Homo sapiens: one gene and its partners. The protein of the gene in region 3 interacts with the protein of the main gene of each other region in a pairwise test. Each region holds a gene or a part of one and is shown on either strand. Other genes may lie near its edges.

Region 1 (3,967 bases), on a different chromosome or scaffold from region 3:
CTCAAGTGATCCGCCAGCCTCGGCCTCCCAAAGTGTTGGGAGTACAGGCATGAGCCACTGCGCCCAGCCATGTTATGTATATTTTACCTCAATTTTAAAAATGTGCTAGATACATAGGAAATAGAATAAGACATACGATATGTAAACTTAAAATATGTGTCTATAAAACAATATTTGTATTGTAAGAACATACAAATAAATTATTAGAATTAATGAGAACTCAAATTCTAAAACTGACCTAATGATGCAATACCGTTTCAATCAATATCCTAACAGTGTCATTTTATGGAGCAAGCTGATTCTAAATTTTATATGGAAATGCAAAAGTTCAAACATAGCTAATATTCTTGAAGAAAACAAGACGAAAGCATTTGATCTATTAGGTATTAAGATATAAAATAATAATAATGTAATAAAATTATCATAATTAAGATGGTGCAATTAAGGCATCATAACTAAGATAATACAAGGAATGACAATTAAACTAATAGAACATAGTAGCCCAGAAACAGACCTACATGTACATAGTTTATTTACAATAAAAATGGCATTGAATAGGAGTGAAAAAATTATGGTCTTTTCAATAACTAATGGTGGGACAACTTGATAGCCATTTAGAAAAAAAAAAGAAACTTCCTCACTACTGAGTAACAACATAAATTCTGGATCTATATCTCGAAACTAAAGTAACAAAGGTTTGAGAGGTAATATATGGGAGATAAAAAATATCTCCTTGCTTACGAGGACAACATATGGGCAGTATCTCTCAGTAATGCCCATATATTATAGTGTCTTCTTACACAGTAGATAAAAAAATAGGAAATACTAATCAGTTTAACCATATTAAAATTAAGACTGTTGATTTCCTAAGTTTACCAAACCTAAGCTATTCACAACCCTTTCTCAGTCTCTACTAGTTCCCTATTTTGACTCATTTTAAACCAGTTGGACCCTTATCTCAAATCCTTATAAATACCTTACTCTAACATCCTCCCTTTGAATCATTACCAAGACTCTGTGTCAAGTTGATGGTCTCCTTTGCTACACTACAATAGGTTTAATGAGCTTTGTTTAGTCAACAGGTTTCCTTAGTGACCTTTGTTGGGGGGGAGTAGACAATTGACAGTCCTTATCTTTTTGAGAAATATACTGAAATCTTTAAAAAAATTTTTTTTGGTAGAGATGGGGTCTTGCTATGTTGCCCAGGCTGGTTTTGAACTCCCAGCCTCAAGCTATCCTCCTGCCTCAGCCTCCCAAAGTGCTGGGATTAGGTGTGAGCCACTGTGCCCAGCCAGTATACCAAGATTTTTTTTTTCTTTTTCTTTTCTTTTTTTTTTTTGAGACGGAGTTTCGCTCTTGTCGCCCAGGCTGGAGAGCAATGGCACCGTCTCAGCTCACTGCAACCTCTGCTTCCTGGGTTCAAGCAATTCTCCTGCCTCAGCCTCCCAAGTAGCTGGGATTACAGGCGCCCGCCACCAAGACCAGCTAATTTTTGTATTTTTAGAAGAGATGGAGTTTCACCACATTGGCCAGGCTGGTCTTGGACTCCTGACCTCAGGTGATCCACCCACCTCAGCCTCCCAAAGTGCTGGGATTACAGGCATGAGCCACCGCACCCAGCCCACCAAGATTTTTATAGATTAAATTCTATTTCTAAGATCTGCTCCAAAATTAATTCAATAAGACAAAGTAGAAGTAGGTAAGATTAGTCATAAATAGTTGATGCTGGGTAATGATACATGGGAGTTCATTAGACTAGCCTGTCTACTTTTGTTTTACGTAAAATTCTCCATAATAATTTTAAAAAGTTACGTTTGTTTTTGTAGTCCTCAAGAGGGGATGTTCACTAAGGTCACAGCAAAGTTGCACTATACGACTCTGGCTTATACCCAGAAAGCATCTAGCCAAACCTAGCCTAAGTTATGCTAGATTCTGAGGTCTTGCTACGACAGAAGGAAGGGAAGACCACAGTGGTTGTAGACTTCAGAGAAATAATTCTTTTTTTTTTTTTTTTTTTGAGACAGAGTCTCGCTCTGTCACCCAGGCTAAAGTGCAGTGGCATGATCTCAGCTCACCACAACCTCCACTTCTCAGGTTCAAGCGATTCCCCTGCCTCAGCCTCCTGAGTAGCTGGGATTACAGGCGTGAGCCACCATGCTCAGCTAATTTTTGTGTTTTTAGTAGAGACAGTGTTTCACCATGTTGGTCAGGCTGGTCTCGAACTCCTGACCTCACGTGATCCACCTGCCTCGGCCTCCCAAAGTGCTGGGATTACAGGCATGAGCCACCGTGCCTGGCCTAAAATAATTCTTTTTAAGGCCCTTCTACAACACCCCAAATGTAGAACTGAGTTGCTGTATTAAATTTGACATTTAAATCTTGGTTAAAACAACAACAAAAAAAGGGATAAAGAATATTTACTGTGTTTTTTGCTTTATTTATTCAGAGAGTGAAACTGTGTTACAGTGAGCTAAATTTTTAGCTGTACTTAGAATGTGCTCCCTCCTACATTTCACTCTGGAAAAGTGAAGTATCTTATCATTTCTTAGAAACCTGGATGTGAAACTAGTCAATATTAAGATCTTATACACATCCTGAGTGATGCCCAATTTAAGGCTTTGAATAGCTATTCATGTAAGTTGACTTTTCTGTGCATTTGTATCGGGGAGGATCCAGTTCAGGTTGATGTCCTGGGAACCAGTGAGGCTCTCGCTTAAATCCTGAGGGAAGAAAAAAAAAGGAAGGAAAGACAAATGAAAACAGTCAACACTAAGGAGTTTTAGTAACTGATCTTGCTCTTATTTCTAGGGAATAGACAGTAAGTCCTGTTAAAATTGAAGAAAAAATCCTGTTTACTCATTCATGTAGTTATTCACCTTTTTTTTCTTTTTTTTTTTTGAGATAGAGTCTCACTCTGTCACCCAGGCAGGAGTGCAGTGGCTTGATTTCTGCTCACTGAAACCTCCACCTCTCGGGTTCAGGTGATTCTCCTGCCTCAGCCTCCTGAGTAGCTGGGACTACAGGCATGCGCCACCAAGCCCAGCTAATTTTTGTATTTTTTTTAGTAGAGATGGGGTTTCACCACGCTGGCCAGGCTGGTCTCAAACTCCTGACCTCAAGTGATCTGCCTGCCTCAGCCTCACAAAGTGCTGGGGTTACAGGTGTGAGCCACTGCGCCCAGCCTCACTTATTCACCTATTCAGTTTACTTTTATTTGAGTTCCTTCTATGTGCCGGTCACTGAGTTAGGTTCTGAAAATGTAAGAATTTGAAAAAACAGTCCACGTACTATGTGTTGAAAGTGGCATTTTGTTGTTGTAGCTTGTATCATATGTTGTTTCAAAGTAGTGTCCAAACTGGAAAGAAAAATTAACAGATTAAGAATCTGGAAGTCTACAGCTAACATCAGGAAATAAAGATCAATATGACATGAATTCTCACGGACTGTCATATTTTAGATGGACTGAGTTCTATGGTGTTAGTCTATATCCTTCTAACTTTCACATGTTTTGTACGTTTGTTTGTTTAGGAGCGATTTAAGTGCAAGACTCAGATAAATGACAAGTCTAGATAGGCAAGGACCAGGGGAAAAGCTAGTCTAAGTCAGAAGACATTATAAATTTCTGTAGACTAAGAGATAAAGTCCAAACAGAAGTAAGAGAAAAAGAGGACTGCCCTTCCTTTTGAAACCTTACAGATAATAAAATATTCAACTTGACAGTAAAGTAGCATAGGTGGTTCAGCTGCGGACTGTTCCTCTGCCCCAACCACTTCACTGAAAACTGAGAGATCACTGCACCAGAAGTTATTACATCCCTGCATTTCAAATGGCCACTACATTTCTTTTGCCAACAGAAGGAAACAAACAAACAAAAAAGACAAAGTTAGATTACCTGGGAAGGCAAGGGTTTGGGCTGCACGATATTCCTCAGGTCATATCTTTCCTGGTTCCAGTTGCCCATCAGGGT
Region 2 (7,038 bases), about 31 Mb from region 3:
TGCCCAGTGCAGGCCGAATCAGGCCCTGGGCACACAGGTTGGCGAGGATCAGAATGGTTCCCTCGCGTACTGCCCGCTTGGGGTGGGAAGCCAGGCTGACGAGTGGGCCCAATCCCCCACCCAGACTTAGCTGCTCAGCACAGGCCCGGGAGCAGCCTCGGCTGAGTTCCAGGAGGGCACGGACGAGGGCTAAGGTCAGTGCAGCATCTGGGGCAGTGGCCAGGAGCTCGGCCAGCGGACGCACTGCTCCCTGCTGTGCCAAGGCCAGGCGGTGCTGGGGTGAGTCTGCCAGGTTACGGAGGGCACGCACCACGCTCTGTAGGCACTGCGAGTCCTGGCAGGCTGTCAGGCTCTCCACAAGCAGGGGAACAGCACCTGAGGGCAGGAAAGGGGAGCACAGAGGGTGAACAAGGACAGACACTCAAGCCTTTCTTCTGCCCCAAGCCCTAGCAGACCCCAACCTCACAGCCTCTTACCAGCACAGTGGATGTCCCCACAGCTCTCAGGTTCCATGGCTAAGTTCCCCAGGGCACGGGCCGTTCGGTTCTGGATGCTGTCTGTCTTCATGCACTGAAGAATGGTCACTGCAACGACAGTTTGGGCTTGTGAGGGTTCTACCCCTTACTGTCTCTCACATCAATAACCTGGAGAATGTGGCCTGAGAGGGCCTGGAAGGCTTTCAGAAGAGGCTAATGGTCGGCAGGGCACCGTGGCTCAAGCCTGTAATCCTAGCACTTTGGGGGACCAAGGTGGGTGGGTCACTTGAGGTCAGGAGTTCAAGACCAGCCTGGCCAACGGGGCCAAACCCCATCTCTACTAAAAATACAAAAATTATCTGGGCATGGTGGTACACGCCTGTAATCCCAGCTACCCGGGAGGCTGTGGCAGGAGAATTGCTTGAACCCAGGAGGCAGAGGTTGCAGTAAGCTGAGATCGTGTCACTGCACTCCAGCCTGGATGACAGAGCAAGACTCCATCTCAAAAAAATAAAAAGAAAGAGGCTAACACTCGGGCTGGGTCTGGAGGGGTACACAGGAAGGTATTTGCCAGAAGCACGGTGGATGGGGGTGTGAGAAGGCATTTCAGGTTTGGAAGCAGCCTTTCCAAAGGCCCAGAGGTAAGATACAGTGTCTGTGAAAGGCTTCAAATGTCAGGCCAAGGGGTCAGGACTTGAATGTGAAGGCACTGGGGGCCACACAAGGGTTTTATGAAGGGGAGTGACACGATACAATCTGACATCCATAGGGAGAATGCATTATGGGGAAAGAATAGGAAGGGGGGAGTCAAAAGGCTGTCATAATAGTCCAAGCATGAAAAGACAATAGCTTGAACCAACCCAGCTACTGGCATCACACAGCACAGAGATACCAGTCTCTGGGCACACAATGGAAGTAGGAAGAGAGAGAAGCAGATAAATTCAGAAGATATTTAAGATGAAAAATAGTAGCTGAATGATGGGGGTTATTTAATAACCAAAGCTCTTGTCAAACATATATGGTCCAGATACATTTTATGTAAATTTTAAATATATTAATGCTTCCCTTTATCCGAAAAGTTAAGATGTCATCAAAACTAGCATAATTTCGTGGAAGGCAGGTAGTGACATGTAAACTGCTTTCACACATTGCCACTAGGAGGCACCAATTTAGCTGGTAAACAGAAAAGCTTATGTTTTGCTAGGATTTGTTCTTACTGTGCTGGTTTTAATTATTTTTATTTATTTTTTCCTGCTTCCTAAGCGACTACTGATTTGTTTGGTTTTCTAAGATACGAGGTCTTGTTACGTTGCCCAGGCTGGAATGCAGTGGCTATTCACAGGCAGTCATTGTTCACTGCAGCCTCAACCTCCTAGGCTCAAGGGATCCTCCCGCCTCAGCCTCCCAAATAGCTGGAACTACAGGCGCGTACCACTGCACCCAGCTTATGCTAGTTTTTAATAACTTGAAATACGTATCATGCTTAGAATATTTGCATATTCGTGCCATATTTGTACTTCGTTTTCTCCCCACTCTGATTTTTTTAGGTAGCTATTATTGCCCCATTTTACAAGGAATCCTAGCCTCGGAGGGGTTAGGTGACTTTTGCAGATCTCCCTTTCTGAACCACTACACCTTCCAGCTCATCAGTGGGGCTTCAGAACCTTGCACAGGGCCGGACACATAGTTGGGCACTGAATGTCTGCTATGAACATCATAACTGGACGGTAAGAATCATCTGAAAAAATCACCAAATAACTCTTTGGCCTCCGCTAGTCCAGCTTCGAAAGAAGTCCTCAACAACCAATTCCTAGATAATGGCTACAATTATCTGGTCTGGGAGGGCTCTCTCTCATCTATAGAGAGTGCAGTGACGTCACGGGGCACAACAGATTGAGAAACAGGAGCGATGCGCCATCACAAAGCACGTTATTCCGGGATAGGACACAAAGAACTCCAGACTGCCCGGGTCTAGAGAGCAAGGGAGTTGCAAACCTAATCTTTCTAGGAAACGGGGGCGGAGCACTTACCCAAAGGGAGTATGCCTCCGAGTCTGCGCACTTCGGTCCGGCACGCCCCTTCCGTACAGCAATCGGCTAGGATGCTGAGCGCCAAGTCCAGCGTCTTGCGCAGGCGCACTGGCGGCGTAGGACTAGACGACGACACAGCGGAGGGGGCGGGGCCCGACGCGGGGGCGGGGCTAGAAGCTCCCGACGCGGCCGACGAGGGGGCGGAGCCGGGGCCTGCCTGGGACGGGGCGGAACCCGCTGCAGCCGCTCGCCGTAGCAGCGCGAGTAGGGGGCGGAGCCCGCCGCGTGCCCGGAAGCGCTCGATTCCCCCCGCTGCCTTGATGTGGCGCGTGCGGAGGGCTAGGAGCGCGCGGCTCAGGGGTGTCTCGTTGGTCGCTGGGTCCTTTTCCCCACCCAGAGCCTCCCCGGCCGCCGCCGCGAGCTGCGCGAGGCAGAACGAGAGCGAGTCCGTGAGGGTTGGCTTCGCAGCCGCCATCTTGGCTCGGGCCTCAGACTCCGCCCCGCTTCTCGCCGCTGATCCCAGGGAGCGGAACTGGAAGACAGGGAAATCGTCGGGCACCGCCTCGCTGACGCTGTTTAGCGCCACCGCAGTGATGCAAGTCGGAAGTTGTAGTTCTCGACCCCGGAAGTCTGTCCTTGCACACGAGGCGCGGCAGTACCTTAATCGCAGCGCATCCTGGGACGTGCGGGCGGTGCATGAGGGAGATGTGGTCCGCGTCGAGCTTCTCACGCCTACCTCGGGAAGCGCTGGAAACTCTTCCAGGGCCCTCCAGGTGGGCCAGGGCCTCCGAACAGCCCAGAAGTCCGACCACGGAGCCTTCGTGCCGTGCCCCGCCCCCGGCGTGCACTCGGCGGGGACCGCCTTTTCTCCTCTAGGCTCGCTTCGCTGCCCCCCAGCGGTGGTGCGGCCCGGCCTTGGGACGGACTCCGAGAACCCCGAGCCGGGCCGAAAGTGCGGGGTCCTGACCGCGCCGCAGACGGGGAGCCCTCGCTCGGTCAGAGGAAGAAGAGGGTTAAACCTACCGAGAACGTTCGCTGCCGCTTCCTAGAGTGACGGGCTTGTGGAATTTTCCGTTTCCGGAGCTGGACCCCGGTGTCCCGAGTGTCCTCCGCTCTGGACGTGCTCGTGAGCTCAGGAGCTGGCATCTAGGAAACGGGGAGTTCTTCACTCGCAGCGCAGTCGGCCGCGCCAGAAGAGGCGAGGGAGAATCCGGACGGGGCGGGGCGGCGGGGGAGCGGGACATTCGCGTCCCGGGGAGCCCCCAGGTCACCCCTGGATTGCGAGGTGGCTCCGCCTGAGCAGCCCTTCCTGGTGTGGTCGGGGCAGCTGCCCGCCCGGAAAATGGTCAGGCTCTAGCCCTGGGGAGGAAGAAGCCTTTGCCAAGAGCAACCGTCTACAAGCCCCAAAACCTGCGAGTGCCGGAAATGTGGACTGACCACAGCCTGCCTCCCCGGCTTCATTCACCACCAAGGCAGCCCCTCTGGTGACAAGCCTTACCGTTGTCCGGGTTATGGCAGAAGCTTCCGATGTGGCTCTGATCTGGTTAAGCACCACTGGGTACACACCGGTGAAAAGCCGTACTCCTGCCCCGAGTGTGACCATCGCTTCGGCCCTATGCCTGTGCCTAGTGTGGTAAGACTTTCAGCGTCAGCTCCAACCTGATCCAGCACCAGCGCGCTCACACCGCTAAAAGCCTTACCGCTGAGGGGACTGCGGCAAGAGTCTCAGCCTTGGCTCCACCCTGTTGCAGCACCTGCGCTCCACATGGGTGAGAAGGCCTCTAAGTGCCTTGTTTGTAGTAAGAGTTTTGTGCACAGTTGGAATCTGCTGCGGCACCAGCACAGTCACAAAGTCCGGAAACCTGATGCTTGGTGGTGAGTGTGGCCAGACCTTCGGCCACAGCTCCCACCTGCCCATCCACTAGGCGGCCCACAGCAGCACCCCTGCGTCTGCCTGCAGTGTGGCAGGGCCCTAGCGCAAAGCTCCAACCTGGGCCAGCACCAGCGGACGCACTAGGGCGGCAGCCTCTGCAAATAGCCCTGGCTTCAATTTTAGCTGAAACTTCAGCTCTGACTTTGGTTCGGACTTCAAGGAAATGGAAGGAACCAGGATCTCTAAGCAGACCCCCTTCTGCTCCCTTAGGGCTGTTGATTTTAGAGCTAATGATGGGATTCGGTTGGGGCGAGGGGGTCTCCACATCTTTTTGCCCAACCCTTTGCTAAGTCAAGGAACCCCAGTCTGGGCTGGGCATGGTGGCTCATGCCTGTAATCCCAGCACTTTGGGAGGCCAAGGTTAGCGGATCACTGGAGGCCAGGAGTTCGAGACCAGCCTGGCCAACATATTGAAACCCTGTCTCTACTAAAAAAAAAATGCTAGGCGTGTTGGCTCTCGCCTGTAATCCCAGCTACTCGGGAGGCTGAGGCAGGAGACTCACTTGAACCCCGGGAGGCGGAGGCTGCAGTGAGCGAAGATCGTGCCACTGCACTCCAGCCTGGGCGACAGAGAGTGTCTCAAAAAAATAACAAATTTAAAAATTGTTTTTAACAAAGGAGCCCCAGTCTGGAAGAATCAGAACACTAGATCTGTGATCACTGCCTTCAAAGAGCCCAGTCAGCTGAGAGGGCTTAGGTTTGTTCTTTGAAGTTACAAAGACAGAACGTCGACCAGCTGAAGGGAGAGTTTTGGAATGGCGGGAGCTATCCAGCGTGGACCCAGCTGCCTGCAGATCTGGCAGTAGCTGACACAGTCCCTTCACAGGCCTAGGGAGTGATGGGGTTAATCACACCTAGAACAACAGCTACCTCTTCCCAGAGGAATGGGACCAGAAATCAGGCAAGCCCCTGTGAGGAGTTCCATGGCAGCGCGCAGGCGGGGCATTCCTAACCTCCAGAGGGAACCATGAGGGATCCTGTGTTCTGGCAGATGGGCCAGAGAATTTGAACTTGGGACCATTGTGTGAGCCCTGGGTGTGTGAGCCCTTCAAAAGTCCTCTCAGCACGTGAGAACTATCATTATGGATGATGCTAGGGTGGTGGGGGCCCCAGAACAGACCTGTATGTTGAGTTCAGGGGTTGCTTTGTTGCATTTCTGGGCAGGGGCAAGAGGCCCAGGGTTTGTCATCTGCCCCTTCCCCTGCCTTATCCCCTTCCCTTCCAAGTTCCCCAGGCTCCTTTTCTGCCAGTCTGTCAAGAGAGGGAAGAGTGGCGAAGAGTCCTTTGTGCCTGGACATTGGGGACTGAACATGGCCCTTTTGCCTGGGCATTGCCCAAACATATATTTCTACTGGCATAACTTTGTGTATGTGAGAGCCAGGGGTAGGCTTCCCAAAGCACCTGCCTGTGCTCAGAGTAGACACCAAGCTCTGAGGCCCTTCCCTTCCCTGCTGGGGGAGGGAGTTGTCTGTTTCAAGGACCTAATGTCCACCCCTTGTGGGACAGTCCTACCATCAGTCCAGGCATCTGGTCTGCTGCCCCCAAATTTTACCATCTTTTTTTTTTTTTTTTTTTTTTTTTTTTGAGACGGAGTCTCACTCTGTTGCCCAGGCTGGAGTGCAGTGGCACGATCTCAGCTCACTGCAACCTCCGCCTCCTGGGTTAAAGTGATTCTCCTGCCTCAGCCTCCCGAGTAGCTGGGACCACAGGCTTGCGCCACGATGCCAGCCAGTGTTTGTATTTTTAGTAGAGGGTTTCACCAACCCTCTACTAAAGACCAGCCTCTAGTTGGTCAGGCTGGTCTCGAACTCCTGACCTCAAGTGATCCATCCGCCTCAGCCCCCCAAAGTGCTAGGATTACAGGCATGAGCCACCACGCCCGGTAATTTTGCCATCTTTTATCAGGCTTTCTGTGTCGAGGACGCTACCCACATAGAGTAGAACCTAAAGGGAAGGGATGTGAAGTGACCTCACCCTCAGCTTCTAGCTCATGGTGTCAAGGCTTGTGTGATCTTAGACACGTCTGCCTCTTCTGAGCCTGTTTCTTCATCTGTAAAACAGGGATGGGAGGTTGTGGTAAAGATTCCACAGCAACACTGCACACGCATGAAGTACCTGGGCCAGGGATGACTCGGCAGACCTCAGTTTCCCTCTGCCTCCTGCCTAGAGCTGTTAGCAAGCATCCATCATGCGGCTCACACAAGAGCTCCCCCCGGAGGTTACAGAAATGAAGGCAGCAGCCCCAGTCCTTGGGTAGCCTGTTTCCCCTTGAAGGAAACAGACTCAATATCAGCAACACAGAGTGAATGACGCCAGGGTGGCGAACGGGCCTTTCCTGGAGCAAATGCGGGAGGCTTCATGGAGATGACGTGTAATGAACAGCACTCATCTCAGGCTGGGAGCAGCACATGCCCCCGGCAGGGAGTCAGTGATGAGGTATGGGGTTCTTGACATCTTCCTCACCCAGGACCCTTCAGAGAGTACGAGCCAGGGTTTGAGTGAAGGGCCTGAGCCCAGCACATGCATGGTAGGCACTCAAAGAATAATTGTCATGATCAGGTCCTTTTTACACTGCTTACTAGTGGCCTTTAAGCCTCAG
Region 3 (7,337 bases):
GGGGCACTGGAAGCATTTGTAGTTGTAGGGTTTGCCCCAGGGCCGCGGGATGTAGTGTGGCTTCTTGGGCTTCCGAGACCGCGCCCTCGCCCCTGTGCCCACGCGGCATGAGCCCGCCTCCCGCGACATGGCAGCCTGCTATGAGGCAGGGCCGGGCACCATGGCCACCTGTAGATGGGGCCACAGTCAGTGCCAAGCCTGCCTCTGACTAACTCCCCACTCCTCTCCATCCATGGCTCCCCAGGCTCCAGGGACTGGAGCCTGGGTGCTCCCCCCACCCCGCCGCCTCTGCCCTGCAACGTGCCCCCCGAGCCCCATCCTTCGGCTCCTCCCCACGTGCACTTCCAGGGTGGCAGCAAAGTCCAGGGCACCAAAAAAAAAAAAAAAAGTCCAGGACAGCGAGCTGCATCTGACGCCGATCAGCAGCACGTCATTTCTGAGTGTTAAGTGTAGCCTAGGCAATATTGGAAAGGCACACTAGAAAGGTGTTCATTGTTTATCGGAAATTCGATTTTAACTAGGCGTCCTTTATTTTATCGGTTGACCCTACACACATCCCCACCCCTGAGGCCAGGCCGACTTGCTGGCCAATTTCTAGGATAGTTCAGCCCACACCCATCTCCCCACAGCATGTGAGTGGCTAAAAGAATCAGCGTGACCAGAGCTCACTTCGGGTGGACGTCAGCCTCCTGGTCTCATTCCCTCCAGCAACCCTGGCCCCTGCCAATCTGCCTGTTCAAAGCCTAGGAAAAGGCACTGAGATGAGACACCAACGGAAGGGTCTGTGTGGGATGATGCTGCGTGTGTGTGTGTGTGCCTGTGTGTGTCTGTGTGTGTGCATGTGTGCGTGTGCATGCACGTGTGTGTGCGTGCATGTGCGTGTGTGTGCACACGTGTGTGCGCCTGTGTGTGCATGTGCCTCTGTGCATGCTTGTGTTCATGTGCACGTGTGTGCATTGTGTGTGCATGTGTGCATGCATGCATGTGTGAGTGCGTGTGTATGCGTGTGTGTCTAAAGGCGGCACAGAGCCTGCTCTAGCAGGGCGTCAGGTGGGCACTGGGGGTCTCTTAGGGGGTCAGTCTCATGTGGGGCCAGGCCAGGCTGTGGGGAGTGGACGTCCCAGCATGGCCCCACGGCTCAGCCACCTGCTCAGCCCAGCTCCATCTGGGTGGCTTCGGGCAGGTCAGCGGCCGAGCCTGCAGCGGCCACACTCAGCCAAGACCCGCTCCTCCCCACGCCCCACACGGCGCTGGTATGCGCGCCACACTCCATCTGGGCCGCCACCTGGGCTGTCCACCGCCCCAGCACGCGCCTGTGTGGGGTGCACAGCACGCCTGCGCACACGGGCTTTGGGTGTGTGTACACAGCCCACAGGCTCACACAGAGCCCTCACCCAGTGCCCGGAGAAGCCACCTCTGTGCCACCTAAGCTCAGAACGGAGTCTGCCACCAAGTGCGGGGCCCTGGCTGCACACACCTCACACTCCATCACGGTGAACACGGCTGCTTGTCCGTGATAACACACTCACCACCCATCCAGGTGTGGGGGGGCTTTCCAAACCACTCCAACACGGCACTCACATGCTCACACAGGCCCTACACACCGACTCCCCAGGACACACGCAGACCTGGCTGGGGGTCGCACCCGTGGTCATGCATGGCCAGTGGGTTGAGCAGGGTAGGGCTGGGGCACTGCTGTCTGCTGCCCCCAAAACACTGTGTTGGTGCCGTTGGGGGGACGACCAACAGGGCTGGAGAAGTCCACTCGTCCAAAGGCTTGGGGCCCTGCAGGGCAGTCACGGGCTGCAGGGGCAGGCAGAGGCTGACCAGCTGGTCTGTGGCTGAGACAGGGTGGCGGTCGGGAGGCAGGGGCTGGGCCAGGAGAGGTCCTGGGGCTCCCCGAGGGGCTGCAGACCCGGCCTGGACTGGGTGGTGGGTGCAGAGGCGGCCCCTTCTCCCTGCCCGCCGCCCCCCCCACCCATGTGGATGACAAATGGGTGTGGGCGCTCCGGCGACAGAGGCGGCTGTGCCGGGCCATCGATCACCCAGCCCTGGGAGCCACACAGCTGTGCCAGCCGATGCCACAACCCATCCCGCCTCCCAGCAGGGACCGGGGGCTCCCGGGTCAGGGGCTTGTCCAAGGGGCTGTCTCAGCAGCTGCTGACCCCTTGGGGACCCGGAGGATAGCTGGCACCCACCTGGTGTGTGTACACAGAGCAAAAGACACCCCTGGACAGCAGCCACACGCACACACAAACGCATACGCACTCACACGCGCGTCCCAGCCGGACCCGGCAATCGCTCCCGGGGCAGCCAGCAGCCCTGTGCCAGGCCCCGACACCCGGCCCCACTCACCTGTCCCTGTTTGGGGGAGAGCTGGGGGAGAACCGGTGGCACGGGGGGCACAGGCACCCCCACAGGGCAGGAGGGGGCACCCAGCAGCCGGGGACCCTGATCGGCCACCCGCAGATCCTGCTGCCCCCCCCCCCGGGAACGCAGGGCGCCCCACACAGGCGGGTGCGGCGAGCGCGAGGTCAGGCGTCTGCCCCAGACCCCAGACCCGGCCCCTGCCCTCCCCGCCTGGCCCCTGAGGGCGGCCCTCCCTCCCCCCGCGCTGCTCCTGGACTTCGAGAAGAGGGTGGGGGGGACCCGGCCGCCCCCCGCGCCCCCCACACGCCTGGCCACCCGCTGCCCCCGCGCCCCGCGTCCAGCCGGCCCCGCGACGCCCAACTGGCCGCCCCCGCGGCTCCCGCCGCTCCTACCTGCGCCCGGCCGGGAGCGGAGCCGCCAAGTCTGCGAGGCCGCGTGTAGGGCGCAAACTTCCCGCCCCTCCCCGCCCCGCGCCGGCCGCGACTCGGACCCCGCGGACGCGCTGGGGCTCTGGGGGTGGGATGCGGCTCCCGTGGGGGAAACTGAGGCCCGGCGCCGGGAGCCGGACCTCCCGGGTCCGCGGTCCCTCGAGCGGCAGCGACTCCCGCAGCCTCCGCCGCCGCCCGCGTCCCCCCGACGCCGCTCGCACCTCCCGAAGTTGGCGGCAGAGGCGGGCGCGCGTGCGCCTGGGCTCCGGGCTCCGGGGGGCGCTGCGACCTCCGACCGCGCTCGCGGCGGGAGGGAAGGAGCAGCCCCCGGCCCGAACCCCGCGCCCCCGCCGCCCGCGCGCCCCCCGCCGCCCCCTGGCGCGCACTCACCGGCCTCGTGCGCCGGGACCGGCTCAGCTCTCGGGGCGCGCGGTGGAGCGGCCGGGAACCCGGGAGGCAGCGGACGGAGAGCGGACTGCGGCGCAGGTGTGCGGCCGAGTCAGGGGCGCCCGGCGCCTCCCGCCCCCGTTGCCCGCAGGCTGCCGCGGGGGTGCACAGAGGCCGCCAGGTCTCCCGGGTCCCCGCCGCGGCGTGATGGGTGTCAGCGGCGCGGGGCGCGGGAGAGGGGCCGTCAGCGCTTATCCATCAGGGCTCTGGCCCCTGACAGCCGCCGGCCCACCCGAGCCAGGGCCCCTGGGGGCTGTCCTGGGGGACAGGGGTGCCGCGGACTGAGCCAGCGGAGCCGGGCTCCCTTCCTTGCCCTCCCTGGGCGAGCCCTGCCCTCCGTTCTCTTTTCCTCTAAACCGGAGGCTGCCCGGACCGGCCCCTCGCACCCCGCCCTGCCGGCTGACCGCCTCCACCTGGGGCTGGTCTCCAGCACCCTCCCCCTTCCTGGATGCGGACCCCTCCAGCCCTCACTCCCGGCTCCTGTGGGAGGTGCCTCAGCGCTGCCCCACGAGGCCACGCACTTCCCTGCTGTTTGAAAGACCCCCTCCCCACGGGAGTCCCCTCCTGAGAGGACCTGGGGCGGTGGAGGAGAGAAGCAGGGCCAGGGCTGCTCCCAGCCCCACCTCCCGGGCTGCACCAAGTTCCAAGCAGCTCCCTGAGCTGCCAGAACGTAAAGGCCTGGAGCCCCACTGCTCAGCTGGGGCCTAGGGGAGGTTCGCCTGACCGGCCTGCTCCCTCCCGGACACAGGCATGGCTGGGGCAGAGCCCCTGACTTCGCTCAGGGGAGACGTCCTAAACCCGACACTTGCGGTAGGCGGGCGTCTCGGGGTCTCCAGCCAGAGGGGAGTGTGCTACTCCCTGCTGACTCTGAAACAGCACAGGGAGCCCGGCCCACATAGCTCCCCAGGACCTGGGGCTCTCTGCAGGCTCAGCCGCAGGCTCCCGGGCTGTCCCCAGCTCAGGTCGGGGTCAGGGGTGCCTTGGGGAAGAAGGGAGGACCCCACGGGGCTTCTGGGTGTCACCCCTCGAATGGGGCAGAGAAGAGAGCTCAGCAGCATCTCCGTGGCCCCGGTCCGGCTGCTGGCAGAGCCCCCTGGTAGAGCACACCCAGGGTCCATGAGGAACAGCCCCTGGTTCTGGGGTGGGCGTGGGGCTCTGTCTCCCTCCTGCCTCCATGCCACCTTCCCTGACACAGCCGCACACGCCCGTCTGAGGGAAGTCCCTGGGGCGGGGCAGGGGACTGGGAGGGGTGCTGTGGATGGCAGAGCATGCCAGCCTTCTCTCTGCCCACCTGGCCTGGCCCAGCTGACCAGCTGACCGTGCAGGCAGCTCCGGGCCGGGAGACAGCTTGGGCTGCCGTCACGCCAGCAGCCCCGTGGAGAGCGGGGGCCAGGAGGCCGGCTGCTTCTGTACATAGACTCTACTCTGGACGTGTTCAGCTGAGCACTGCCCCGGGAGACTAGGGTCCAAGGTCACCCTGACACCAGTAGTCCCTCAGTGGCCAGCCCGAGACTGACCCCTTTGAAGGTCTGGAAGAGGCCACAGCTGACAGCACAGGAGACCAACTGGCTGGAGGCTCTGGCCATTGTCCAGGGGAGGAAAGTAGGGAGCAGGGAGGCCTGGTCTTGGAGCACCTAGATGTCAGCATACAGGAAATAAAGCCCAGTGAAGCTCAGGGGACCAAGGAGCCCCAGAGGGGGAACAAGGCCGTGTCTAGCGCTGAGCAGGCTGAAGGAGCACCTCCACCCCTCACCACCGATGGGCCTTTGCAGAAGTTTGCATGAGAAGAGAAGAGGGGCAGCCTCGAGAGGGGCCCCGGGGCACAACTTGGACGTGTTTCTGGCCTCCCGGAAGGACTCTGGCAGGGAGGATGAGGGGGCCCTGCACCTGCTGGTGGGGGTCCTGAGATTCAGCCGTGCACGAGGTGGGGGGTGAGGAGCATGTGAGGCCAGTACACTGGGTGCCCAGATGACTGTTCCCATCACAAACAGCCAGGCGAGGCCGGGATATCAGTGCCAGCACCCCGCAACCACAGGGCCCCCTGGGCACGTCAGCTTCCTCACTGTGGCCATGACCCACCTGCTTGGTCCCAGCTCTTGCACACTGGGCTGACTTTGGGTTTGGAGAGGTGGCTTCTGCTTCCTGAGGCAGTGACTGGGACTCTGTTTTGGCACCTGTGCCCCCACCCCCCCAACTTTCTGGCCCATGGCCCCCATCTGCAGAATGGGCAGTGGGGTGCTCAGTGTCCGGGCACTTCTGCTCTGGTCCTAGTGGGTGCCCTGATGTCTCCTTAGCCAGTCCCAGTGCAGGGTGGGATGGGGACCCCATGGCCCCTCCTTCTGCCTCCAGCCAGAAGCTCATTTTTGGCCATTAACCTCTTCTGCCCGGTCTGCCCACGGCTGCCCGCCTGTCACCTCCATTAACAATGGGACTCTGTGCCGGGGGCTCACGGGCAGGACGGAGAGCTGGGCTCAGAGAAGGCAGCGGAGGCAGCGCTCGGCATGGCCAGTGCCCGGGGGCAGGCCTGTCTCATCCCCTCAGTGTCGACACACAGCCAGTGTCAGGACAGGTGCAGGGGCCGGGGTGCCTGCACCCACACAGTGAGGGCAGTGTCAGGGCTGCAGCCAGGCTGGAGGCCCCACGCAGGTCCTGAGACCGGGGCAATCTATCCAGCGGCAGCAGGTTGGAGCCCCCACGTGGGGTCAGTACCTTGCAAGGTGTCCGGACACAGCTGATGTCTGTCCTTTCAATAACGGACCCCAGGGCCTGTGGCCACCCTGAGCACTTCAAGAACCCCAGGTCTACAGAGCATAGGCCTCCTGGGGGCTTCCTCCTTGCTGCCCACTTGAGGATCCCTGGTTGAGAGGGGCAGCCCAGCCTTGGCGGAAGGGGTCATGGATACACGTGAGGGCCCTCGGCACCAGCCTGAGGCTGCTGGCCTTGATGGGCGGGTACACAGTGGGGGTGCCAGGGGAGAACGGAGGGGGCTGGGCAACCGAGTGGGCCAGAGCGCCCAGGACAACGGCCCAAGGGTGTGGGGGGCACACGAAGAGCCTGCGGAGCTCTGGGGTCCCTGGGTCCATCCACCTGAGGGAACGGGGGCCCTGTTAGGAGGCGCCTGAATGGGGGCTCCAGGAGTCTTCCGGCTCGAGCACTACCAGGGATAGTCCTCCCCAGCAGCCCTGACCATCCCAGAGTCCACACCAGAGAGTCCCCTCCCCACCCGCCTCCCGGCTCTGGAAGACCCCAGCTGGGCCCTTCCCCATGCACTACACTCTCATAGACGTGCCGGGTCACTGGCCACCCTGGGCCGGGTGCGGGGCTGACCCTCTGTGTGTCCTGAGCCTCTGGGACGGAGGAGGGTACAGGACGCTCCTTGGAGGGCTGAGCTGCTGTGGTGGGAGTGAGCCCCGTCCCAGGAGGCTGGGATGTAGACTGACAGAGGGGGCAGCCAGCCAGGCGGGTGGGACGGGAGGCTGAGGCTGCTCGAGCCCCCACCGGCTCCCGAGCCTGGCACTGGCCAGCAGCGCCCGGGGCCGACAGCAGCCATATGTTGGGAAGAGGAGCTGTGTGTGTCTCTCTGCGGCCCCCGGGGCTGGCCTTCCTGGGCCTGTCACAGATGATTTTCCCCGCCTGAGTGGCAGGCGGGCTGGCGGGCGGGGTGGCGGGGCCTCCAACTGGCAGGTGGGGTGGTGGGGCCCCATGTCCAGCCCCCCCATAGCCCTCAGCACCAGGGCTGGCCACTGTTGGGGTAGATCCGGGTCCTGGGCCTTGGCCTCCCACCCCCCAAAACCTCACTGAGCACCCCCGGCCTGCCATGGCCACCCCTGCCCAGGTCTAGGTCGGGGTCCTAGAGGAGCCCTGGCCGGCCAGTGGGGAGCGGGCACTCCTGCCAGGACATGGGCAGGCAGCCAGGGGTCCACACTGGGCAGCAGTGCGCCCCGGGCAGGCGGGAGAGGGCCTGGAGCCGCGGCCCAGTCAGCCTGGAGCCCAGAGCTGTGGAAGGAGGCGAGGAGGCCACGGCTAATTTGTACACTAAATGCTTCTGACAGCGATGCCTCATAAGTGAGAACTTGCCACTGCCCACCCCGG
Region 4 (7,022 bases), on a different chromosome or scaffold from region 3:
TGGGTTGTCACCACTGGGCAGGGGGTGCACAGGGCAGCCCCACAGCCAAGAGCTATGTGACTCCAGATACCAAGTGCGCCAGTGCTGAGACACCCTCCTCTGCGCCACGAGCATGGGCACAGCCCTTGGGGGTCTACTGGGCCAAGGGGAAGGCAAGGGAAGGCAGGTGTGTGCACGCTGGGTCATTCTCCTCTCTGAACAGCAGGGACATCATTCCCTAATTACACTGTCCCACGAGGGAAATCTGAAATCCTGCCAGGAGAAAATCTTTGAGAAAAGAATAGATTTTTTTTTTTTAAGAAAAACTGCCTAAGTTTGTCTATTGCAAGCTCTCAGGGCCAGGTATCTGATCCCTGTCCAATGAAGGTAAGAGCAGGAGGTGGCGGGGGCTGGGGTACTGCCACCTGCCCGTCTCAGCTTACCCGGCTGAGCTTTCTCAGCTCAGGGTCTCCTTCTCACAGGCCCCTTCCAGCCTGTCCCCCGCCCTGGCCCTGCCCTCAAGCCTCGGCCTACTTCGGCTCCTCGCCCCTTCCCCACCCCTTCTCTTTCTCGGGCCTGTCTACCCTCACTCCCCCAGCATCTGAATCAATGCTTTTGAAAGACTGCCCCCTGCCGGAGACAAGGGGCGAGGACACGCTGGGCCCGGGTGCTCCAGTAGGCGCCAGGGCGCGCGGGAAAGGGAGCCTGCTCTCTGGGGCTCAGAACTCAAGAGAGAAAGAAAAGACAGAGAACAGGCGGTCCCAGTGCACATTCAGCTAAGAACATTATCTCCTCACTCCATCACCCCTAAAATTAGCTCCAACACAGAGCACTGTGCCTTGGCACAGAACAGAGCCACTTAAACAGAAGCACAGTCCCCAATTCCTCAACACTGGAACAACCGCCCAGCCCCAGGCCTGCTGGAGGGGACCTGGCCCTTTCTCAGGATGGAGATTCTCCAAGCGTGGTAGGGTGAGGACGCTGAGGCTTAAAAAAGAGATGCAAACCCGCATTCTTCGCGGCTGGTCGGTTATCCCAGCTCTCTCCTCTCTGAGCCATCCCAGCAAATCACACCACCGCTTGGCAATTGTCTACAAGTTAACAGTTTTCAAAGGATTTTCACTCTTTACCTCCTGTGATCCCTTTTGCCCACTTGCCCAGCCTTGGGCTCCAGCCAGGGAAAAGAAGGAGGAAGCTGCTCCGACAGCGTGCCCCGACATCCTTGACACTATGCAAGACTGGAGGTGCGCACGGTAGCAGTAACCATCCCAAACTCGCAAGCATTATTCTGTGAGTTTGAAGCCATTTTACATTTGTTAGACTTTCAACATCCTTCATCTAGCCTCCTCCTCTCATCTTCTCTCCTCTAAAGTGGGCTATTTTTCTTTAATTCCCAAATTCCAATAGCAGATGTAAAAGTTAGGGCTAACGCATCAGATCACGAACACAAGACTGATGTGTCCAACAGCAGAAAAAGCTAGTCCAGAAGTTTAAGCACATGGTCCACTTGACTAACCACCACGTGGGACCCTCAGGGCCCCTGGTCCCCAGGCAATGGCAGGGACACCAAGGCCAGGTCTACCCTCAAATCCTTCCCAATGGCACGACAGACCGCTGGGGGACCAAGACCTACAATCTAAGAAAATCAGATTGGAGCTGGCTAGCCTGGTGGAGGGTGGCTAGCCTAGGTCTGCAAAGGGCACAGGAAAGATGGGAAGGAGAAAGAACCCCAAATCCCCCATGTCGGCAGCAAAGGAGAGACCCTTACTGGTACCACCGATGGTGTTTCCATGCCAAAGGCGAGGGGTTGGCGGGGTTCTAAATTGAAACTTCTATATAGACTCGAAGAGGCAGTGCACAAGAGGGTGGGAAAGCTGACGATCTTCCAGAACGACACTTTGAGAGGCAGGAGGGAAGTAAGGCTTGGGTGGCTGGAAAAAAAAAATCCAATCCAGCTAACAAGTCTTTATGTAGCATCTCCTAGTTCCTAGCACTAGGATGCAACAGACCTGGAGTCTGACCGGGAATGCGAGTAATGACTGTATAACAGAGAAGAGAGACGAGGGGCTTTTAAAAAGTTACTCGGAAATTTTTTTGTTTTTTTTTTTTTTTAAGGCAAAGTGTGAGAGCTGTGGCCAGGGAGCTGCTGCACGGAGGGGCATGAGCTGAGAAGGGCCTGGCCTGGGACGGGGAGGACAAGCAGTCTCTGCTAAGGAAGGTATTTCCCGCGGCCGAGCAACTGGGAAGAAGGAGACCCCAATGACCCAGCACTAAGATCGCCGGAGCGAAAGGAAACAGAGGTGAGGAGGACCCAGGCGAGGTGCCTGGGTGGAGGGCAAGGCTTCCATGTTGGCCAAAGTCGTGGAACGCTTGGACCTGGGGAACCGCAAGGCCCAGCTCGTTCCGAGGGGAACCCAAAGGCGCGCTGGGGAGAACTCCGGGAAGCGCGGGGCCCGGCCACCCTAGGACGCTAGGGTCGGGGGCCCCCAGGCGGCCCAGGGCAGGGCTTGGCAGGGGCCCGGGGGCGACCGTTAGGAGCGCGGGGGTGGAAGGCAGCGCGCCGGCCCGGGAGGACGGCGTGCCCTTCAGGGAGGGGCGCCAGGTGCGAGGGGGGCGAGCGGTCGCCCCCTAAGCCGGGCGCCGGCCTCCCGGGGCCTCCCCGAGGCTGGCCGGCTCTGGGGGAGGGTCCCGGCGGCGGGGATGGGCCGGAGCGGGCGGGAGAGCGGGAGGACGCACCGGGCTGCGGCGGCCTCGGGGAGGAGACGGGGGAGGGTCCTCGCTGGCGGCCCGCGCGCTGGCTCCGGCGCTTCTCTAGCTCGCGGGCTCGGCGCGGCCGCCGCGGCGTCGGGGGCGGGCCTGCCCCGGGGCTGGGCTGCGGGCCGGGGGCCGCGGGGCCACTGGGCGCTTACCGCGGGCGGCGCGAGGGTCCGGTCCCGGGGCGTGGGCGGCGCGCGGCGGGCGGGGGCCGGGGACGGCGACGGCGGCTAGCAGCGGGGGAGGGGGCGCTGGCGCTCCCGCGGCGGCCGCTCCTCTGTGTTTGTGTTTGTAGCAAGATGGCTGCCCGCCTCGCACCACGTGACGCGGACGCGGGGCCGCGGGGCCGCCCCTTCCACCGCCGCCGCCGCCGCCGCCGCCGCCGCCGCCGCCGCCGCCGCCGCCGCCGCCGCCGCCGCCGCCGCCGCCTCCCTCCGCGGCTCCGGCCCGCGCCACCTCTCCTCGTGCGCTGCTCGCGTGCCGCGCGCGCCACTGCCCGGACGCCCGTCGCCCCCGACAGCCCCCCCCCTCCCCGCCCCGACACGTGACCTGGGCGCCCGGCTGGTCACGTGACGGGGGCCCCCAGCTGCGGGCGGGATCGGCCCCAGAGCGGCCTCCTCTCCCCCACCTCCCCCGGCCCCGCGACGCGCGACCTCTGGGACCGAGGCCGCGGCCTCCCTGGCGGTCCGGTTTCCTCCAGGAAGCCCGCCTGGATGACAGGAGACAATAAAATCCAGAACCCTTCATCAGGCGTCCTGGGATGTGTGAAATAAGTGGCTCAGGCAAATAAGTTGACTCTCAGGAGCCTCTTTATTTTTTTAATTATTTATTTAATTATTGAGACAGAGTGTTGCTCTGTCCCCCAGGTTGCAGTCCAGTGGCGCGATCTCGGCTCACTGCAGCCTCCGCCTCCCGGATTCAAGTGATTCTCATGCCTTGGCCTCCCGAGTAGCTGAGATTACAAGCACACACCACCACGTTTGGCTTATTTTTGTTGGCCAGGCTGGTCTAGAACTCCTGACCACTCAAGTGATCCGCCTGTCTCGCCCTCCCAAAGTGCTGGGATTACAGGCGTGAGCCACCGCGCCCGGCCCCTATTTATTTATTTTTTTGAAGCAGGGTCTCACTCTGTTGCCCCAGCTGCAGTGTACTAGCCCGATCTCGGCTTACGGCAGCCTCCAACTCCCGTGTCTCAAGCGATCCTCCCATCTCAGCCTCCTGAATTGTTGGGACTATAGGTGTGCACCATCACACCCAGATAACTTTTTTATTCTCTGTAAAGACTGGGCGGGTGGCGTGTCTCATAACATTGCCCAGGCTGGTCTTGAACTCCTGGTCTCAAGGGATCCTCCTGCCACAGCCTCTTGAGTAGCTGGGACTACAGCTGTGTGCCACCACACCCAACTAATTTTTTTAATTTATTGTATTTGTTGTTTGTTTGTTTTCCAAGACAGAGTCTTGCTCTGTCGCCCAGGCTGGAGTGCAGTGGCGCGATCACGGTTAACTGCATCCTGCGCCTCCTGGGCTCAAGCAATCCTCCTGCCTCAAGCACCCTGAGTAGCTAGGACTACCAGGGCACACCACCACGCCCAGCTTTTTTTTTTTTTTTTTTTTTTTTTTTGTAGAGACAGGGTTTCCCCCATGTTGCCCAGGCTGGTCTTGAACTCCTGGACCCAAATGATCCTCCTTCCAAAGTGCCGGGAACTCCTGGACCCAAATGGATCCTCCTTCCAAGGTGCCGGGATGACAGGCATGAGCCGCCACGCCTGGCCTCTCAAAAGCCTCCGTTTCTCTTACAGAAGGATGTTAACACTGCTCTGCACCCAACCCCCGACCCCCAACTCCACACTCTTCCTTGAGTGCTGTAAGAATTAAAATAAGTGAATGTGAAAGGCTTTGACAAGAGAGAAACTGCTATGCAAATGTGAGGTGACTGAAACCCCCTTTGTTTAAAAAAAGGACTTTTCAAGAATGACTCGCTGAACTTTTTCAAGGCTCAAAAGTTCCGCGTATGCTTTCACCTTTTTCTTTGGAAGTTACTCCAGAATGTATACCTTACTTCCCAGAAGCCTAAAAGAGCTGTCGCCCAACACAATGTAATCCTCAAAACAAGGAAAAGGTAAGTTCATGACTTGGAATTTGAGTGCCTGGTGTCTTGCCATGATAGAGTGTTGACTTCAGGAACTATTATACCTGGAACAACTTTTGTTTCCCCCACCAAGTACCACTAGGCTTCTCTGCACTTGGAGTTTTCCTGTCTGTTTTCCTTTTTTAACTATTTTATTTATTTAAGAGACAGGGTCTTGCTCTGCTGCCCAGCCTGGAGTGCAGTGGCACAATCAGCTCACTGCAGCATCGACCTCCTAGGCTTAAGTGATCCTCCCTCCTCAGCCTCCCGAGTAGCTGGGATTGCAGGGAGTGGCACACCACCATACCCGGGTATTATTTATTATTTATTTTTTTTTTGAGAAAGAGTCTCACCCTGTTGCCCAGGCTGGAGTGCAGTGGCGTGATCTCAGCTCACTGCAACCTCCGACCCCAGGTTCAAGCAGTTCTCGTGCCTCAGCCTCCCAAGTAGCTGGGATTACAGGTGTGTGCTACCATGCCTGGCTAATTTTTGTATTTTTAGTAGAGACAGGGTTTCACCATGTTGGCCAGGCTGGTCTCGAACTCCTGAACTCAGGTGATCTACCTGCCTCAGCCTCCAAAAGTGCTGGGATTACAGGCACGAGCTACTGTGCCTGGCCCAGCTATTATTTTTTACTTTTAAATTTTTGTACAGACTGAAGTATCACTATGTTGCCTGGGCTGTTCTCGAACTCCTGGGCTCAAGCAGTCCTTCCATATTGGCCTCCCAAAGTGTTGGGATTACAGGCATGAGCCACTGTGCCTGTCCTGCTGTCTGTTTTTATATTTTATTTAATATTTTAATTTTTTTCGAGACGGAGTTTCGCTCTGTCGCCCAGGCTGGAGTACAGTGGCGTGATCTCAGCTCACTGCAACCTCCACCTCCTGGGTTCAAGTGATCCTCCCACCTTAGTCTCCTGAGTAGCTGAGACTACAGACAGGCGCCACCATGCCCAGCTAATTTTTGTATTTTTGGTAGAGATGGAGTTTCACCGTTTTGGCCAGGCTGGTCTCAAATTCCTGGCCTCAAGTGATCCTCCCGCCTTGGCCTCCCAAAGTGTTGGGATTACAGGCGTGAGCCACCGTGCCCTGCCAGCTAGCTTCCTTTCTCAAAGAGGGAGTTTATAGGCTTTAATTTCTGCTGACTTCAGCATCAGTGTTCACACTTTACAGTTGGTGGGGATTACTTGTCCAAAGTCACACATTGGTGTCCAGGAGATCCAGGGAGACCCCTCTGGTCTTCCACCGTGATTGTATTAGTCAGTTCTCATGCTGCTAATAAACCTTGTCCTTCCTTGAGCCCAGAAGCCTGGGCAACAAAATGAGTTCTTGACTCAAAAAGAGAGAAAAGTGAAAAAATATAATAAAAAACAAAAAAGAACTGTGAGTCTCCCATGAAGAATTTAAAAATTACAAAGAAATCACTTGGACCTAATTGGCCGGGCATGGTGGCTCACACCTGTAATCCCAGCACTTTGGGAGGCTGAGGCAGGTGGATCACCTGAGGTTGGGAGTTCAAGACCAGCCTGACCAACATGGAGAAACCCCGTCTCTACTAAAAATACAAAATTAGCCAGGCGTGGTGGCACGTACCTGTAATCTCAGCTACTAGGGAGGCTGAGGCAGGAGAATCGCTTGAACCTAGGAGGCGGAGGTTGCGGTGAGCAGAGATCACGCCATTGGACTCCAGCCTGGGCAACAAGAGCGAAACTCCATCTCAAAATAAAGAAATCATTTGGAGCTAATGTGTTTTTGTTTGTTCAGGTGCTGCTCTGTAAAATGTCTTGGTCTGTGTTCTAAATTTGCAAACTTTTTAACTAAACAAAGAGATTTGTTTGGAAGGTTAATGGAGATGAAAGAGTGGTCTCACGCAGACCAAACAGCCAGCCTCTGCCTTTCTTTTCTTTTTCTTTTCTTTTTTTTTTTTTTTTTTTTGAGACAGAGTCTTGCTGTGTTGCTCAGGCTGGAGTGCAGTGGTGCAACCTCCGCTCCTCCGGGTTCAAGCGTCTTGTATTTTTAGTAGAGATGGGTTTTGCCATGTTGGTCAGGCTGATCTCAAACTCCTGACCTCAGGTGATCTGCCTGCCTCAGCCTTCCAAAGTGCTGAGATTACAGGCGTGAACCACCGTTCCTGGCCCTTTTTCTTTCTTTCTTTTCTTTGA

The links.
Region 1: the proteins of PRR35 (region 3) and CFAP68 interact in binary tests that used the Homo sapiens proteins (3 or more experiments, as listed by UniProt).
Region 2: the proteins of PRR35 (region 3) and ARMC5 interact in binary tests that used the Homo sapiens proteins (3 or more experiments, as listed by UniProt).
Region 4: the proteins of PRR35 (region 3) and GIGYF1 interact in binary tests that used the Homo sapiens proteins (3 or more experiments, as listed by UniProt).

The regions. Positions count from the first base shown.
Region 1 is NC_000011.10:111,882,524-111,886,490, reverse strand, and holds the end of CFAP68 (cilia- and flagella-associated protein 68), read right to left. Parts: coding exon 3,893-3,967; intron 3,356-3,892; coding exon 3,289-3,355; intron 2,721-3,288; coding exon 2,611-2,720; 3' UTR 516-2,610; downstream 1-515. UniProt on the Homo sapiens protein: Microtubule inner protein (MIP) part of the dynein-decorated doublet microtubules (DMTs) in cilia axoneme, which is required for motile cilia beating.
Region 2 is NC_000016.10:31,455,468-31,462,505, reverse strand, and holds the start of ARMC5 (armadillo repeat-containing protein 5), read right to left. Parts: upstream 2,982-7,038; coding exon 2,507-2,981; intron 585-2,506; coding exon 477-584; intron 376-476; coding exon 1-375.
Region 3 is NC_000016.10:556,087-563,423, reverse strand, and holds the start of PRR35 (proline-rich protein 35), read right to left. Parts: upstream 3,031-7,337; 5' UTR 2,763-3,030; intron 2,528-2,762; exon of another isoform or gene 1,629-2,527; intron 855-1,628; exon of another isoform or gene 670-854; intron 169-669; 5' UTR 130-168; coding exon 1-129.
Region 4 is NC_000007.14:100,691,222-100,698,243, forward strand, and holds the start of GIGYF1 (GRB10-interacting GYF protein 1), read right to left. Parts: upstream 3,030-7,022; 5' UTR 2,889-3,029; exon of another isoform or gene 2,716-2,888; intron 1-2,715. UniProt on the Homo sapiens protein: May act cooperatively with GRB10 to regulate tyrosine kinase receptor signaling. May increase IGF1 receptor phosphorylation under IGF1 stimulation as well as phosphorylation of IRS1 and SHC1.